Linked DNA regions of Homo sapiens: region 1 is linked to region 2. Evidence: fine-mapped expression QTL. Tissue or cell type: whole blood. Region 2 holds a variant in brackets; the other region holds the start of a gene. All regions are shown on one strand. Distances are between the middles of the regions.

Region 1 (8,000 bases), 30 kb before region 2:
CCAGCTGGCACTGCCAGCACCCGAGACAGTGAAGTACAGGGAGCTGCAACCCAGCCCAGAGCTCCAAGTGTGCGTGGCCAAGAAGCTGACTCCCGAAGGGGGTCTTGAGAGGGGTCCTGCGAACCCCTCCTCTCCCCTGGAGACCCGTCCGGGGGCGGGGCCTTTCCCAGCCTCTGCTCACAGCCTGCGCCGGCCCAGCCTGTAGTCACTCTGTCTCTGCCAGACCAGCCGTCATTAAAAGCACCAATTAATCTCCCAGGCCGTGCCAGGACGCTGCCAACTGCCCCACGGGTGCTCGGGATGCAGGGGCTGGGAGGCCCGGGCCAAGGCTGTGCACACACCGGCTGCCAGCGGGTTCACGCCCGCCGGGCCCTCCCTGTGCTTCTCAGAGGCCGCACAAAAGATGGGCTGCCTGCCGCAGGAGGAGGGCCGGGTTGGGGGTGGATGGAGGGGGACGGGGAGGACGGGCAGGGAGGGACGGAGGGGCACAGGGAAGGACGGAGAGGGAGGGACAGGGGCCTCTCCAGGGTGGCATTTCCCTGGGCAGCCCTGCTTCCTCCTCGTGCCCTGGGCCCAACACACACCACACACACACACACACCATACACATGCACACCACACATCACAAACACACCCACACCCTGCACACATACACCACACACTAAACACACACACCACACACATACCACACACATACATCATACACACGCACACACACCACACACCATACACACACCCCACCACACACATACACGCACACACACACACCACACACACACATCATACACACGCACACCACACATCACACACACACAAACACACCCACACCCTGCACACATACACCACACCAAACACACACGGACACACACACACCACACACCATACACACACCACACCACACACATACATCATACACACACACACACACCACACACCATACACGCACCCCACACACATACATCACACACATCATACACATACACACCACACACCATACACACCATACGCACTATACACGCACCATACACACTATACACGCACCACACACACCATAAACACACCCCATACATACATCCCATACACATATCACACATTACATACCATACAAACACACACCACACACACACATGAACACACGCGCCTCCGGGGTCGCCATCCCTAGGAGCCACGGGTAGGGTGGGGTGGTCTCTCATCTGGAAGCATCCCCCAGGCCATCCCTGCACCATCTCATGGGCAGCAGAGCCTGTCCACCCACATTCTTCTCTGCGGCTGTCCTTGGCGCCCAGGCCAGGGCATGTGGAGCTACAAATGTCATCTACACCAGCTCTCCACGCCCGGCACTCACGGCCCAGGGGACAGCCCTGGTCCAGATTCCCCCATCAGGGTATACTTGAAACGTACACTCCCCCTGAAACTGCAAGGCCCACTAGCAGGTGGTGAGGTCAGGGTGGGTGGGGCCATGCAGACACGGCGGAGCAGGCCCCAGCTGAAGGGGTGGGGCAGGGATGGGAGACAGGGGAGGAGGGTGTGTGTGCAGCTCCCCCCTGGATGAAGACATGGGCCCATCAGGTGGACTCAGAGGTGGCTCTGATGGCTGCCCCTCCACTCTCCACCCCCGGGTCCATCTCTTGTCATCAGACACTCTGCTCTAGCTTCCCCAGGGAACACGCTGGCCTCTCCCTGCAGGAGATCAGAAGCTTCAGGGCTCAGCTTAAATGACACCAAAGATGCTTTCCCAGACCATCCTTCCTGAAGTCCCCGCCTCTGAGAGGTGCTTTTGGAGTTACCTGCTGCCTGCCTCCCTCCACAAGGCCAGCGTCTGCAGGGCAGGAGCTGTGAGGGTGGCCCGGCTCCATCCTGTGTGGGAAAGTGCCTGGCACACAGCAAGTGCTTAATTAATACCTGGTGACCCTCAAGCCATCCCGACACCTCCCTCTCTGAAAGCTCCGTCCCGGCGTCCTCTCAGGCCTAGTGGCTCACACCCGCGGAGGACGAGGTCATTTTCCTGGGGACTTCAAGGTGGACCAGAGATGACTCTGGAAGGGGGGTTTGTGGGCACCACTCTGCATGGGGATCCTCACCCACATACCGCCCTCCCGGGAGTGCACCAACACGTCCTCAGCTGACTGGCCTAGGCCCCCACCACCCCGCCACAGAGACTCCCCACCTCCCCACCCCTCCTGTGGCAGCCTGCACGCCCAGCACCTCCCCTGGTGATCACTGCAACCTGGGGAAAGGAGCAGGCGCTGTTGGAGCCTGAGGCAGGGTCTCAGTTGCACAGACCACCGTGCCCCAGAGTCAGGGCCTGGATGCCACTCCCCAACCTCAGTCTCCCTTCCTCCAGGGGTGCTGGAGTTCCCCACCTGTGTCCCAGGGACTTGAAGCTTCCTTGGTGGATGGGGAGCCAGGAAGAGGCCACCCTGCCTGCTCGCAGACCTAATGCAACTGCTTTTCTTTGGCAAAGAGAGCTCTCCACGGAGGTCCTCACCCGGATGGCACTGTGAGCCCGAGTGGGCGATGTCTGCTCTCCCAGGGGCAGGGGGTGGAAGGTGGCACAGTTTGGACCGGACCCCCACCCTCACTGCTTCCACTTAAACCCCCACTTCTGCCTGCCTGCATCCCAGGCCTAACAGATGAGTTCCGCGGGCGCCCCAGGCGATGCTCTGAGGGCCACGGAAGGATGCGGGGACCCCGAGCGGAGGGCAGGGCCTCCAGGGGGAAGAGGCACTGCAGACGGAGGTGTGGGTCTTCCCAGGCAGGTGCCGGAGCCAAGCGAGATGGTGGGACGGGGAAGAGAGGGCAGGCCAGGCTGGCAGCCAGCTCTCCACCTACGATGCGTGGAGCCTCCCAACTCGCGCACTCCGTCTCCCCACCGCTGCTTCCTCTGACCTGGCTGCAGAGATGAGACCGCCCTCCGGGCAGGTGACACGGCCCTTGCTCTTCAGCCTGGAGGCCAATGCTTCCTCCAAAGGCCCTGGCCCCCTCAGCTCCGGGCCTGGCTCCGGTTGTTCCCAATGCAAAGCAGCAAGGGCCCCGGGGTCTGCGGACGGGGGCGGGCGGCCGCTGGGGGCACCAGCTCTCGGCCGGGCCAGAACAGGGGGTAGGAGGCGCGTCCTGTGCGGTCGGTGGCGGCCCCAGGTGGGTGCGGTGCGCTGGCAGGAAGCGGCAGCACGACCCCCGACTTTGCATCTGGACTTTTCTAGTAACGGACCAGCTCCTTCTGCCGACCGGGCCGGGGAGACCGCGTGGCTCAGTGGCTGCAGCGGCCACCGGCCCGGGCGTGGGGGCTTTGAGGGCACCGGCGCGGTAGGTCACCCGGGTTTCGCGGGCCGCAAGCTCGGAGACGCGCGTGTCCCGCGTTGGCTGCCTGACCCGGAATGGCGCAGCCCCTTCGCCTCCAGCGCGCTGGTTGAAAGGATCCGAGCCACCCTCGGGGACGGCCGGGCCGAGGCCACCTCGCGGGGCGGCCTTGGGCGGGGACCCGGACCCGCGGTTGGACGTTCGCCTCGGGGGGGGCAATGTCCCCTCTCCGACCCCGCGGTCCCCACCAGGGCGGCACACCCCGCCCTCTCCCCGCCTCCGCAGGCGCCCAGGGCTCACAGGCTCGGAGCGGCCTCCGCCTCTGCCGGACCACCCAGGGCCGCCCCGCCGGAGGGGCCTCCCCGCCCCCGAGCCCTAGGTCACGCCCGGAAGGCCCGGGGCCCCCGCGTCCGGCCACGCCATCCGCCCGGCGGCCCCAGGGACTCAGCGCCGGGGTCAGCGCAGGCCCCGCCCAGCGCTCCCGCCCCCTCCAGCTGGCCGGCCCCCGGGACCGCGCCCCCGCCCGCGCTCTCCACGCTCGCACTCGTATGGGCAGGGCGGCCCGGGGTCCCCCAGCTCCGAGCCGCGGCCCCTTGAAGCGCGTTACCTGGACGTGCGCTGTCCGCAGACTCTGGACGAGCTGGGCCTGGGCGCTGCGCGGCGGAACCGACCCTGTCCTGGACCGCAGGCAGCAGCTGACCCCGCGCCACCGGCCTGCGGGCGAGACCTCAGGCGCGAGACGGGCTGTGTGTGTGTGTGTGTGTGTGAGAGAGAGAGAGAGAGAGAGAGAGAGAGAGAGAGAGAGAGAGAGTGTGTGTGTGTGTGTGTGTGTGTGTGTGTGTGTGTGTGTGTGTCGGGGGAGGGGCCCGAGGACCCGCTTCCTAGCTGAGCGTCAGGACGGGGGGCGGACTCTCAGGAGCCGCGCGGCGCCCGCAGAGGAGAGGAAGCGCCGGAGACCCCCCTGCTCCCACCCGGCCTCCCTGCCCCGCTTCCTTTCCCGGGGCTCCAGAGAGGGGAGCTCCAGGCGTGGGGCGCCTGGCCCACGTGGTGCGGCGCCGGGCGGGGCAGGCGGGGGCGCGGCGAGAGCCGCGGAGCTTTCTTTATGGGTGGGGGGGCGGGGGCGGCCGGGCTCCGCCTCCGGGGGATCGGGGCGCGCTCCGCCAATGGGTAGCCGGGCGCGGGGCGGGGCCGCGGGGCCGCCGCTTAAAGAAACTTGTTGCGGGTCCCGCAGCGGGACCCGAGCCTCGGCGGCGGCGGCGGCGGCGGCAGGGGCGAGGGTCGGGGCCACCGCGCGGCGACCTCGGGTCCCGGAGCGACCGCAGGGCAGCCCCGGGCGCCGGCCCCGGTGCGCGTCTCCTGTGCGCGCCCCTCCGCGCGCGGCCCCGATGCTGGACATGAGCGAGGCCCGCTCCCAGCCGCCCTGCAGCCCGTCCGGCACCGCCAGCTCCATGTCGCACGTGGAGGACTCGGACTCGGACGCGCCGCCGTCTCCCGCCGGCTCCGAGGGCCTGGGCCGCGCGGGGGTCGCGGTGGGGGGCGCCCGGGGCGACCCGGCGGAGGCGGCGGACGAGCGCTTCCCGGCCTGCATCCGCGACGCCGTGTCGCAGGTGCTCAAGGGCTACGACTGGAGTCTGGTGCCCATGCCGGTGCGCGGCGGCGGCGGCGGCGCGCTCAAAGCCAAGCCGCATGTGAAGCGGCCCATGAACGCATTCATGGTGTGGGCGCAGGCGGCGCGCCGCAAGCTGGCCGACCAGTACCCGCACCTGCACAACGCCGAGCTCAGCAAGACGCTGGGCAAGCTGTGGCGGTGAGTGCCGGCGCCCCGGGGGCGGGGTTCGGGACCTTGGCCGCCCCTGGTCTCGGACTGCGAGCGGGGGCCTGGAGGGCGCAGAGCTCGCGGAGGTGGTGGCCACACGCAGGCTCCGGGCTCTGCACCCCGGGCGGGTGTCAGGGCGGGTCCCAGTGGAAAAACATCCTCTGGCCAGCCGGGGTCCGGCGCCAGCTATGGGAGTCGGGATCCGCGGAGGGCAGCGCCTGGGGTGTGCACCCTCGTGGCGGGTGCGCTCTGGAGCCAGTTCTCCTGGCGGGGAACACCCTGCGGAGGGCCATGGCTGGCACCCCGACGTGCCCTCCAGCCGTTGCGAGTGGCCCCAGCCCCGGGAGGCACGCCCGGCACGACAGCAAGTTGCATGCGGCTCTCTGGAGGTGCTCCCTCCTTAGAAAGGGCTCAGCTCCTCTAGCTCCTGGACCACCCATGGGGAGGGAGTGCGGCAGGCGGATGGGTGGGCAGCAGGTTTGCCTGCGAGTACCCTCCCCGCAGTTTCTCCCTCTCCTGGACACCCTCGGTCCGAAGCAGGGAGGGCAGGAGTGGAGATGACGGGGTGCGCCGTGTGCACGCCTTGGCGTGGTGGGGCCGGTCAGTTTTCCAGAAATTAGGACTGCAGAGTGAAGAACTTGTTGCTCAGGACAGGCCGCCCCCACCGAGTGTCCTCTGGTTGGGTTTCAAATGGTTCTCTTGGTTTGGGGCTCTGGTTCCCGTATCCTGCTCCTCACCTGGAAGAAGGGAGCTTGGAGCTTGCGTATTTGCACCTCCTGCCTTCTGTCTGGATCTAGGGCGCAGCCACGGGGCGCTGTGGACGGCAGGCCCCTGCTCCCCCAAGTCCTGCCGCACAGGCGGTTGGAGGTGAGCCTCGGGAAGAGTCCCAAGGAGTGTGTCCTGTGGCTCAGTGAGGACGGGCGCCTGGGCCCTGCCAGGGCTTCTGGGTGTCTGGGAATGGAGGGACAGCAGCCCAGCTGCCCGCCGAAGGCCGGCACCGTTCCCGGGAAGCCTCGCTTTTGTCCACCGCCGGCTGGGTCCTGCCCGCCTCCCCCGCCTCCCTTAGAAAGCCCCAGAGGGAGGGAACAGCAGGCCCGGAATAGGGGGAAATAGAAGGAGGAAGATGGGAGGCGTGGGGCTTGTTCTTCTTTGGCTGTCGTAAGCATACCAACCTTCCCAAACAGGCGCCGGCCGGTTCTCCCAGAGGAGTGTACTGCCTGGTGCCACGGGAGGCTCCGGAGCGCACGGCAGGCGGGTTTCCCTGGTCAGAGCCTCCTGGCCCCGGCCTCTGCTGCCGGTTCCCCCTGTGGTGTGTGCCTGCGCCGAGGGCACAGTGGGCGCCCTGGCCATCCCTGCCTCTGCCCTGTGCTGCAGCTTGCTGAGCGAGAGCGAGAAGCGGCCCTTCGTGGAGGAGGCAGAGCGCCTTCGCGTGCAGCACAAGAAGGACCACCCCGACTACAAGTACCAGCCACGGCGCAGGAAGAGCGCCAAAGCCGGCCACAGCGACTCCGACTCGGGCGCGGAGCTGGGACCCCACCCTGGCGGCGGTGCCGTGTACAAGGCTGAAGCAGGGCTTGGAGATGGGCACCACCATGGCGACCACACAGGTGGGCTCCAGGCCCCCCGCATATCTGAGGGTCCCTGTATGGGAGGCAGCTGTGGGGTTTCTGGCTGAGAAGGGTGCATGATGGTGGAGGGGGGCAGGCGCCCTCGAGAGAACCGGGCCTTCCCCGGGTTCCCTGAAAAAGCTCCCAAGGCCCCGGCCGCCCCTGTTTTTGGTGCACGAGGGACCTGCTTAGCCACCTTGAGTGCTGAGGGGCTGACAGCTTTGCTTGGCAGGGACCCCGAGAGGTGGTGTTTTCAGCAAGACTCAGTCCAATGCGGGCTCCTCTTCCCACACCGAGCTGCTGCCCACACGGCACTCAGCAGCCCCAGCTTCAGGGCCAGACTGACAGGGTGGAGTCCTGCCGGGGCCTCGGTCAGGCTGGCTGACGCCCGCCAGCCTCAGAGTGCTTGGCTGGCCCGGGGAGGAACAGGGTCTGTGTGGTCCCCCAGCGCCCTGTAAACCCCAGCTCTGGCCAGGCTGGGCCTGTCGGCTTCTTCCCCCCACCTTGGTCTCTGGGAGGGGCCTCGGGTCTTCTCATAGCACAGCGCTTCATGGAATTTTCTCGGCCGAGGAGTGAGGTCTAGGTCTGACTTTGCTGGAATTTCTGGGAAATGTAAAGAAACAAAAAGCCGTTGATCCCCCTGGCAGTTAGCGCGGGCGTCCCTCCCCTTCCAGCCTGGCCGGCCCCACCCGCCCCACAGAAGGGGCATTCATCCCTGAAGCCTGCTCTCCTGTCCCCAGGGCAGACCCACGGGCCGCCCACCCCGCCCACCACCCCCAAGACGGAGCTGCAGCAGGCGGGCGCCAAGCCGGAGCTGAAGCTGGAGGGACGCCGGCCGGTGGACAGCGGGCGCCAGAACATCGACTTCAGCAACGTGGACATCTCGGAGCTCAGCAGCGAGGTCATGGGCACCATGGACGCCTTCGACGTCCACGAGTTCGACCAGTACCTGCCCCTGGGCGGCCCCGCCCCACCCGAGCCGGGCCAGGCCTATGGGGGCGCCTACTTCCACGCCGGGGCGTCCCCCGTGTGGGCCCACAAGAGTGCCCCGTCGGCCTCCGCGTCGCCCACCGAGACGGGTCCCCCACGGCCGCACATCAAGACGGAGCAGCCGAGCCCCGGCCACTACGGCGACCAGCCCCGAGGCTCGCCCGACTACGGTTCCTGCAGCGGCCAGTCCAGCGCCACCCCGGCCGCCCCCGCCGGCCCCTTCGCCGGCTCACAGGGCGACTATGGCGACCTGCAGGCCTCCAGCTACTATGGTGCCTACCCTGGCT
Region 2 (8,000 bases):
CACCCTGTCCGCCCTGTCCACGGAAACCGTCACCCAAACTTGGAGCTGTGCAGGGGATCCGGCCACCCCGTCTGTCCTGTCCGCGGAAACCGTCGCCTGAGCTTGCTCCACGTTCCAGACCGGGGCAGCGGGTTCCCCAAGGCTCCATGGCCGTGGGATGTGAGGGCCTGGAGCCTTCCCGGAGCAGGATGGAGGGGAGCAAGGCGGGAGGGGTGGCGGACAGCGAGTCCAGTGCCTTCTTCTAGATGGGGACAGGCTTTGGTGCTGGGGGACAGAGGGCTGGGCCCTGGGATCGTGGCAAGACAGGCCATGGTGGCCAGCCCGCTAAGTCATGTCTCAGGGAACATGGCAGGAGTCCTCGTGCCTCTTGGGAGCAGACCTGCAAAGGCATTTATTTAGGGCTCTGGGGTGCGGCCCAGGGAGGCTGGAGGAGGCATTTCCCAGGTGGCAGCTCCTGTTCTCTCCTCCCCGAACACCAGGCATGGCCAAGGGGGATCCTGGTGCCTCTCTGCTCCGGTGGGTGTGAGTCACCAGGGCACACAGGCGAGGCCATGGGTGGTGGCTGTGCCTCGGTCTGGCCAGACGGGTCATGTCTCCACCAGGCGCCTGGAATAGCTCTCTGGGGCATCCAGCTCAGGGAAAAGGGTGTGGGCGCCCTGCAGGACGGACGTGGCTGGAGCTGCAGCAGCCCTGCCAGGTAACTGGGACCCAGCCAAGGGTCACACTCTCTGGCCCAGAAGCCAGGAGCCGACCGTGCCCCATCCCTCCCTATTACAGCCCCGCATCCTTCTCCCACTCCTGCTCGGCTGTGCCGTGCCCTTGAGGGGAACCTGGCCAGCTTGGTGCCAAGTGCTGTCACTCCCAGCAGGCAGCGTCCTTCCCATGGCCCAGGAGGGGTGGGGGTTCCTGGGATGCTCCCACCTGGGACTCCAGACTCTAGCAGGGATCCCTGCTGTCTGAACCCCTGTGGCTGACCCCACGGCCCCTGGCCCCGTTTCCTGGTACACCCCATCTCTGTCCCTGGTGGAGCTCCAGCCCTTCATTCCCCTCTCCTCATCACCAAGTCCCCGGGCCCAGGCTTCCCGGTTGGGCAGTGGAAAGCCAGGACATCCTTGGAGGACCCAGGAAGCCCCTTCAAGGGGGACCGTGATGGCTGAGGCCCCAGGACCTCGCGGGGTGATGGATGGGGGTGGACGTTGGTGCCAACCAGGCAGTCTCCAAGCTGGGCCGAGTTTTGGAAATGACCTCGTCTTCCAACCTTCCGCTTCACAGACGGGGCACAGAGGGCAGGGACCTGGGGCCCGTGGGAGGGGATGGCCTCTGAGAGTCTCCAGCGAGGACCCACGGGGCGGTGGCCATGATGAGGGCACCTGCGTTTGTGTCTGGAGCTGCCATACGAAGCACCACCAACTAGGAGGCTCAGGACAACAGAGAGCCCCTCACAGCTCTGGAGGCCAGAGGACCCCTCACAGCTCTGGGGGCCAGAGGGCCAAAGTCCAGCGGCCAGCAGGGCTGGTTTCTCCTGAGACAGGGAGGATCCTCCTGGCCTCTGCCAGCACCTGCTGCTGCCCGTGCTCCCTGGCTGGCGGCCACATCGCTCTGCCTGCGTGTTCGTGGGTCCTCCTGTGAGCCTCTCCTCTCCTCCTTATACGGGCACTCGGGCTAAGACCCACTGACCCCATCCTGGAACCAGTTACACCTGCCATGACGCTGTTTCCAAATAAAGGCACGTCCTGAGGCTCTGTGGACGTGAGTCCTGGGGGACACTGTTCAACCCACTACAGTGCCCAGTTGTAGTTCAGGAAGTTGAGGTCCAGAGAGATGGGGGAGCCCCCAGACTCATCCACACCAGAGACCTGTCACAGATGGGGACCCCAGACACTGGAGAGAGTGATCTGGTTTTAGGGGGTCACCCAGGGAGCTGGAGAACACAGAGAGCTGGAAAGAAGTGGTCAGGGCTGCTGCCTCAGGTGGGCGTCTGCCAAGGAGACTGTGGAGATCTCAGGGGTGGTGAGAGGCTGAGGGTCCATGAACCAGGCCGGATGGCAAGCCAGAATCGGGCTTTGAGAGGTGGCTTTGGGCTGTGATTTAAATAAAGGAAGGGGCCAGGTGCAGTGGCTCATGCTTGTCATCCCAGCACTCTGGGAGGCCGAGGCGGGTGGATCATATTAGGTCATGAGTTTGAGACCAGCCTGGCCAACGTGGCAAAACCCTGTGTCTACTAAAAGTACAAAAATTAGCCGGGTGTAGTGGTGGGCGCCTGTAATCCCAGCACTTTGGGAGGCCAAAGCAAGTGGATCTCCTGAGGGCAGGAGTTCGAGACCTGCTTGGCCAACATGGTAAAACCCCATCTCTACTAAAAATACAAAAATTAGCCAGGCGTGGTGGTGGGCGCCTGTAATCCCAGCTACTCGGGAGGCTGAGGCAGGAGAATCGGTATAAATAAATAAATAAATAAAGGAAGGGAGCATTCGGGGGAATGAGTCAGGGAGACTCCAGGCCTGGAGGATGGGGCAGGGGCCAGCACACCGGGGTCTGTGAGCAGTGGGGAGGCAGCCAGGGCAGGCCCTGCACGCAGCAGGTGCTCAGAGGATGCTAGCAGGAAGCACGTTGCTGAGAGGAGGGCGAAGTGTCAGCGTGGGGCTGGCAGAGGGAGACGCCAGCGAGGCAGGGCTGGTTGGCCCAGGAGCTGCCCCGGTGCCAGGAATTTGGGTGGGCAGGAGCCCGAGAGCTCCCATCTGCACCCACCTGTCAATCCCAGGCAGCCCCAGGCTCTGGGGTGGAAAAAGAGAGGAGCAGGTTGTTCCCAAGGGAGGCAAAGTGCCTCCAGGAGGCCGGGCGACCACACAGCCTGCAAGTAGCGGGGAGCCCGGCCCCAGTGCTGGCGGAGGAGCAAGTGTGGGGGCTCTGGGGTGCGATGGGGCGCTCGGAGTCCCCAGGAAGGGGCATGGGGCACAGGGATCCTGAAACTCAGTGTGTGAGGGAGAGGGGAGACAGGTCTGGAGGAGCCAGGGACACCAGGAGGGGCTGGGCGTGGGAGCCCTTCTAGCCCAGCCAGCGACGAAGGCCCACAGGGACCTAGGAGAAGAGGAGGTACCCCTCGTGTGGGGCGGGGGCCGGGCCGGCCTTGCACGTTGATGATGCTTGCAAGTGGGCCTCTGGGGCCGAGCAGGGCCCCCCGAGCAGTGCAGAAGCTATGCGGGGACCTCTGCAGGGTCCTGGGCTGCCTCTGTGCCTCTCAGCTGAGTGGGGGATCCAACGCTCCCAGGCTACTGTGTCCACTGTGGATGGAGGGGTCCGGCCTGAGGGGAGTGTGGGGGGCGTGGTGGGGGGAAAAGGCCACCAGGAAGCGCTGCTCTGTGGCAAGGGCGGCAGGGAGGGGGACACAGCTGCACAGGTGGGGAGCCTGGTGTCTGGTCCCAGCCCGCTTCTGCTTCCTTACCCGGCAGCTGCCCAGGCACAGCCGCAGGGAAGCCAGGCTGCATTCACGGCATCTCCGGGAGAGACAGGGCCCCTTTCCGGCCCCCTGTTCAGCAAGTCCTCCCCATGGCTGGGGGAGGGGCCAGGCGTCGCAGCGACCCGTCTGTGATTGTGAACCCATAAAAGTGGCTGGTGGGAGGCCGGGCAGAGGCAGCGGCGGGCTCGGAGGGGCCCTGAAGGACATGCCCCGTGAAAGTGGAGGGCCCAGGCGGCCACACGGTGGTGACCCCATCGTGCAAAGTACTGCCCATTCCCAAGCGGAAGAATGTGTGGAAACGTGTG[T/C]GGCTGTGACACGGAACCCAGCGGCAGCCGCTGGGCAGGAGGGGCTGCAGCGTGTGGCCCCCGGGTGGCTCCAACCAAACGGGCCAAGCTGAGGCTGTTCCCACTCGGGGGCCGCCCACTGTGTGTCCACATGGCCGTGGCCCCATCCCGGGACAGGGCTGATCAGGTTGCCCTGCACTGTTGTGGCTTCGGTGTCTGTGGCAAAATGAGACCCCCACCTCTGAGAGACGTGTGGCAGGCGGGGCAGGCGGCCTCAGTCCTGTGAGTGCCTTGCCACAGGCTTTTGGCTTTGCTGGTCTCCAGGCACATGGAGAGACAGACGCTGGCTGAGTGCGTCCTAGGCTGGGTTCCAGGGTGGTCCCAGGAGCGCCGGCAGTGAGCAGTTCAGGGCTGTGGGTGCGGGGCTTGGTCCAGCAGGCAGGAGCAGCCCCGCCCGGGCAAGCCTCCCTGGAGGGAGACAGAGGAGACACAGGGCAGAGACGCAGGGCAGAGACATAGGGCAGAGACACAGCGCAGAGCGGCCAGGGCAGAGACGTAGGACAGAGACGCAGCGCAGAGCGGCCAGGGCAGAGATGCAGGGCAGAGACACAGCGTAGAGCGGCCAGGGCAGAGACGCAGGGCAGAGACGCAGGGCAGAGACACAGGGCAGAGACGCAGGGCAAAGCGGCAGGGCAGAGACGCAGGGCAAAGCGGCAGGGCAGAGACGCAGGGCAAAGCGGCAGGGCAGAGACGCAGGGCAAAGCGGCAGGGCAGAGACGCAGGGCAAAGCGGCAGGGCAGAGACGTAGGGCAGAGCGGCAGGGCAGAGACACAGGGCAGAGCGGCAGGGCAGAGATGCAGGGCAGAGCGGCCAGGGGCCCAGAAGCTGGAAGAGGCGGGAAGGACCCTCACCTGGGGCTTCCGGAGGGAGCACAGCTCTGCTCACACCTCGATTTTAGGCCTGTCTCCAGGCTGCGGGAGAGGACATCGCTGCAGTTTTCAGCTGTGCCATTGGTGGTACTCAGAGCCGGCATTCCCTTCCTGCAGCAGCTGGCCTCGGCGACCCTCACTCCACTATGGCAGGCGTCCCCTGCCTGTCTCCGCACCGTGCCTCAGCCCTGCTCTGGTCCCACAAGGGCTGCAGCTGCCCCGACTCTCCCAGGGCAGAGAGACAAACGGGGGAGCAGAAAGCAGAGTGACCGGGAATGTGCCTGGCGGTCAGGTGGAAGGCCACAGACCCCCGAGGAAGCAGACGTCGTGTGTGGCCTGCCTTGGCGTCCAGGAGACCATCTCCTCCGGTGGGGTCAGACCACAGAGGGGCCCTCTCTGTCTCTGCCCCTTTCCCTGGTGTGAGCAGGAGCACCCGGGCGACAGGGGCGCCTCTTCCTTGCTGCCCCACCCAGAGGGCAGCACACAGCTCAGTGCAGGAGGGACAGAGACCTTCAGGCCCGAATTACCTCCGGCCAACACTCAGCCTGCCCGCAGGACCTCGGGCCACCGTGGTCCTGTCCGCCCGATATTCTTCCAAGTCACCCTCAGCTTCGAGTCTACTTTGAAAGGAGACTCCCCATGGCAGGTTTGAGACACTGCCGGGGTCCCTTCCTGTGCACATTGGAAGAGACGTGGAGGCTCCGGCAGAACGATCTGAGCACCTGATTCCGCACTGGGGCCGCAGCGCGGGCTCCCTTTCAGGGCGTTGGGGGCCACGCTTTGCCCCTCTGTTTAGTAACACTCAGGGGACCCTGAAGGCAGGCAGGCAGGGTCCGCGGGATGGGGAGTCTCACAGCAGCCCACACCCCAGCATCTTGCTGGGAGGAGCTGGGGAGCTGGGTAAATCGGGGAAAATCCATCTCCAGGGCTCCCCTGAGGCTGTCCCCATTCCCAGGAAGGCAGGAATTACCCCACCCTCGGCCAGCCTCTGCCTGCCTTTCCCAAGATGATTCCAGAGCCCAGCAGCTCCTCTGGGACCCACATGGACTAGGCAGGCGGCTGGAGTGCTGTGGAGCACGGGGAAGGGCCATGAGAGCCTGGGACCCTCAGGCTCAGGACACCATCCTGGTGGCTGCTGATGGGGGTCAGCATTCTGCCCCTGCATCCTGCCCCTCTGCCCAGGGTCCGGAGGACTCACCGGGCTGTGCCCCCACCTGTGTGCCCTCCCCATGTCAAAGAGCAGGCGGGGGCGCCTGACAGGGTGAGGCCGAGGGTCCAACCCTCAGCCCCATACTGGCCGCAGGTGGTTCCTGAAACTTGTGGGACTGGAACCTCCTGTTGGCTGAGACCCCGGGGGGTGGTTGCAGAGGTGGGGCTGGTCTGGGAGTAAGCAGGGCAGGACACCTGCGGGGTTGCTTGGCCTCAGGTGGGCAGAGGCTGTTGGGGGCCTGGAGAGCCTGGTGTGACCTGGGGGCAGGCTGGGGTGGGGGATGAAACCCACAGGTGCCCCCAGTCAGATGCACACCCAGGACACACATGCGCACACGCAGGACACACGTGTGCACACCCAGGACACATGCGTGCACACCCAGGACACATGCACGCACACCCAGGACACGTGCACACACAGGACACACGTGTGTGCACCCAGGACACACGAGTGCACACATAGGACACACACGTGCACACCCAGGACACACGAGTGCACACCCAGGACACACCCGTGCACATGGAGGACACACCCATGCACACACAGGACACACATGTGCACACACAGGACACACACGTGTACCACTGTGCAGCCCTGCGCCCCCTCACTGCGTCCTGTTGCAGGCCTGTGTTGCTGTTCCATGTGCTGCCCTCTGCCTGCACGCAGGTGCCCATCGCCAGCGGGGCTGGGATCTTCCTGTGGTGCTCCTTGGCCCCTGCGTTCTGCCCGCCTAAGTGGCCCCTCCGGCTGGTCCTGAGCATCTGCTTGCTCAGCTCTGTCCTGGGCTGGGCTGGTGGCATTGAGGAGGAGCTGGCTGGGCGCTGGGTGAGGCAGGACCAACCCAGGACAGGTGTCCAGCTCTTGACAGGAGCTCCTGGCCCAGGCTGGTGGCTGGGGAGGGGCTGTAGCTGCCAGGGCTGGGAGCGCCTCCTCCACCTGCATCGGACCGTGCTCCGGAGGCCACGGTGCTGTGGAGGGTGGTGGCGGATCTTGGGCAGGCAGAGGCTGCCAGGGGGCCTGGGCGGGGCCTGGGGTGACCCAGGGGCAGGCCAGTGGGCTGTGGAGACTGGTGGTGCTCCAGAGGCCACAGTGCTCTGGGCTTAGAGCAGCTGCACCCGGAGGCATGCCCTGGACGTGGGTCCAACTCTGCGTCATGCAGCTGGGGGGCAATGGACGCGCCCCCCTTCCTGGCCTCGGTGTCCTCCCTGTAGCTGGGATGGCTGAGAGGAGAGGGGAGAGAGAATTGGTTTAGGGGACCTCGCCCAGGAAAGCTCATGATCCACTCTGTACCCACTACGGGGAGGGAGCCGAGTTGTGGGCCCAGGACACCCCTTCTGGCTGGGAGGAAACGGTGGAGGGGCCTGGAATTCCTCCAGGCCTGGGGGTTGCTGGGAGCCCTGATTTACGGCCCCAGCGCCTGCAGCCCCCCTCCTGCCCTGACAGTTCTCGTTGCAGCCTCCAGGTAGGAGGTGTTGGCGGGGCTGGGGCTGGGGTGGGTTTCCAGGTCCCCTCTGCCCATCCTAGGCTCAGTCCTGTGAGCTGAGTGGGTGAGCTGTGTCTGTGGGGCTGGGCTCTGTGTGTGGGCTTCTGAGGGGTGGCCCCGGGCCCCTGTGAGTCTCGGTCTTCCAGTCCGTGGAGTGGGGTGGACTTGTTCTCTGATGCTGGCCGAGGGGGCCTCCTACAGTGGGGGCTGTGGCCTCCATGGGTCCACCTGCCCATCTGTCTGGCCAGCCTGCCCTGCTGGAGGACTCAGTGCCCGAGGCCGGCTTCCTTGTTCACCAAAGGGAGAACAGAGCCATGCCTCCCTCCCAGCCCTGAGCAGGGCCTGTGCCGGGAGGGCCAGTTCCCCTGGCCCAGAGTCGTCTCCCTGTCCCAGCCAGGCTGGAGGTGAGTGGGACGAAGGGGTCCCCAGGGCAGGTGCTGCCGGTGAGGAGGAGAGTGGCTTCTCCGAGGTTGCAGCGAAGGACGGCCAGGTCTGGAGAGGATGTGGCCTGGCCAGTCCTGACGCCGGAGGTGACGTGGCGAGGGCTGGAGGTGGCTCCTCCTGGGAGGCTGCCCCGGGACAGAGGTCTGGGCTGCGTGTGTTGGGCCTGGCCCACTCTCCGTGGCCAGATGCCACC

Evidence for each region. PIP is the estimated chance that this variant, and not a neighbour inherited with it, causes the effect.
Region 1: it holds the start of CEROX1, and the variant in region 2 is fine-mapped to the expression of CEROX1 in whole blood (TOPMed, PIP above 0.99).

The regions. Positions count from the first base shown.
Region 1 is chr16:977,238-985,237 of GRCh38, forward strand. It overlaps CEROX1 (cytoplasmic endogenous regulator of oxidative phosphorylation 1), which reads right to left and starts at 4,376. Exons shown (of 3, transcript NR_164343.1): 1 at 2,364-4,376; 2 at 1,788-1,873. SOX8 (SRY-box transcription factor 8) reads left to right here and starts at 4,533. Exons shown (of 3, transcript NM_014587.5): 1 at 4,533-5,107; 2 at 6,491-6,723; 3 at 7,464-8,000. The coding sequence starts at 4,686. It also overlaps a transcript of LMF1 not described here.
Region 2 is chr16:1,006,924-1,014,923 of GRCh38, forward strand. No RefSeq gene overlaps it. Among named protein-coding and RNA genes, the nearest start is that of SOX8, 29 kb to the left of the region's middle. RefSeq lists an enhancer at 3,060-3,679 and a silencer at 7,433-7,634. The variant T/C (reference allele first, on the strand shown) is at 3,763.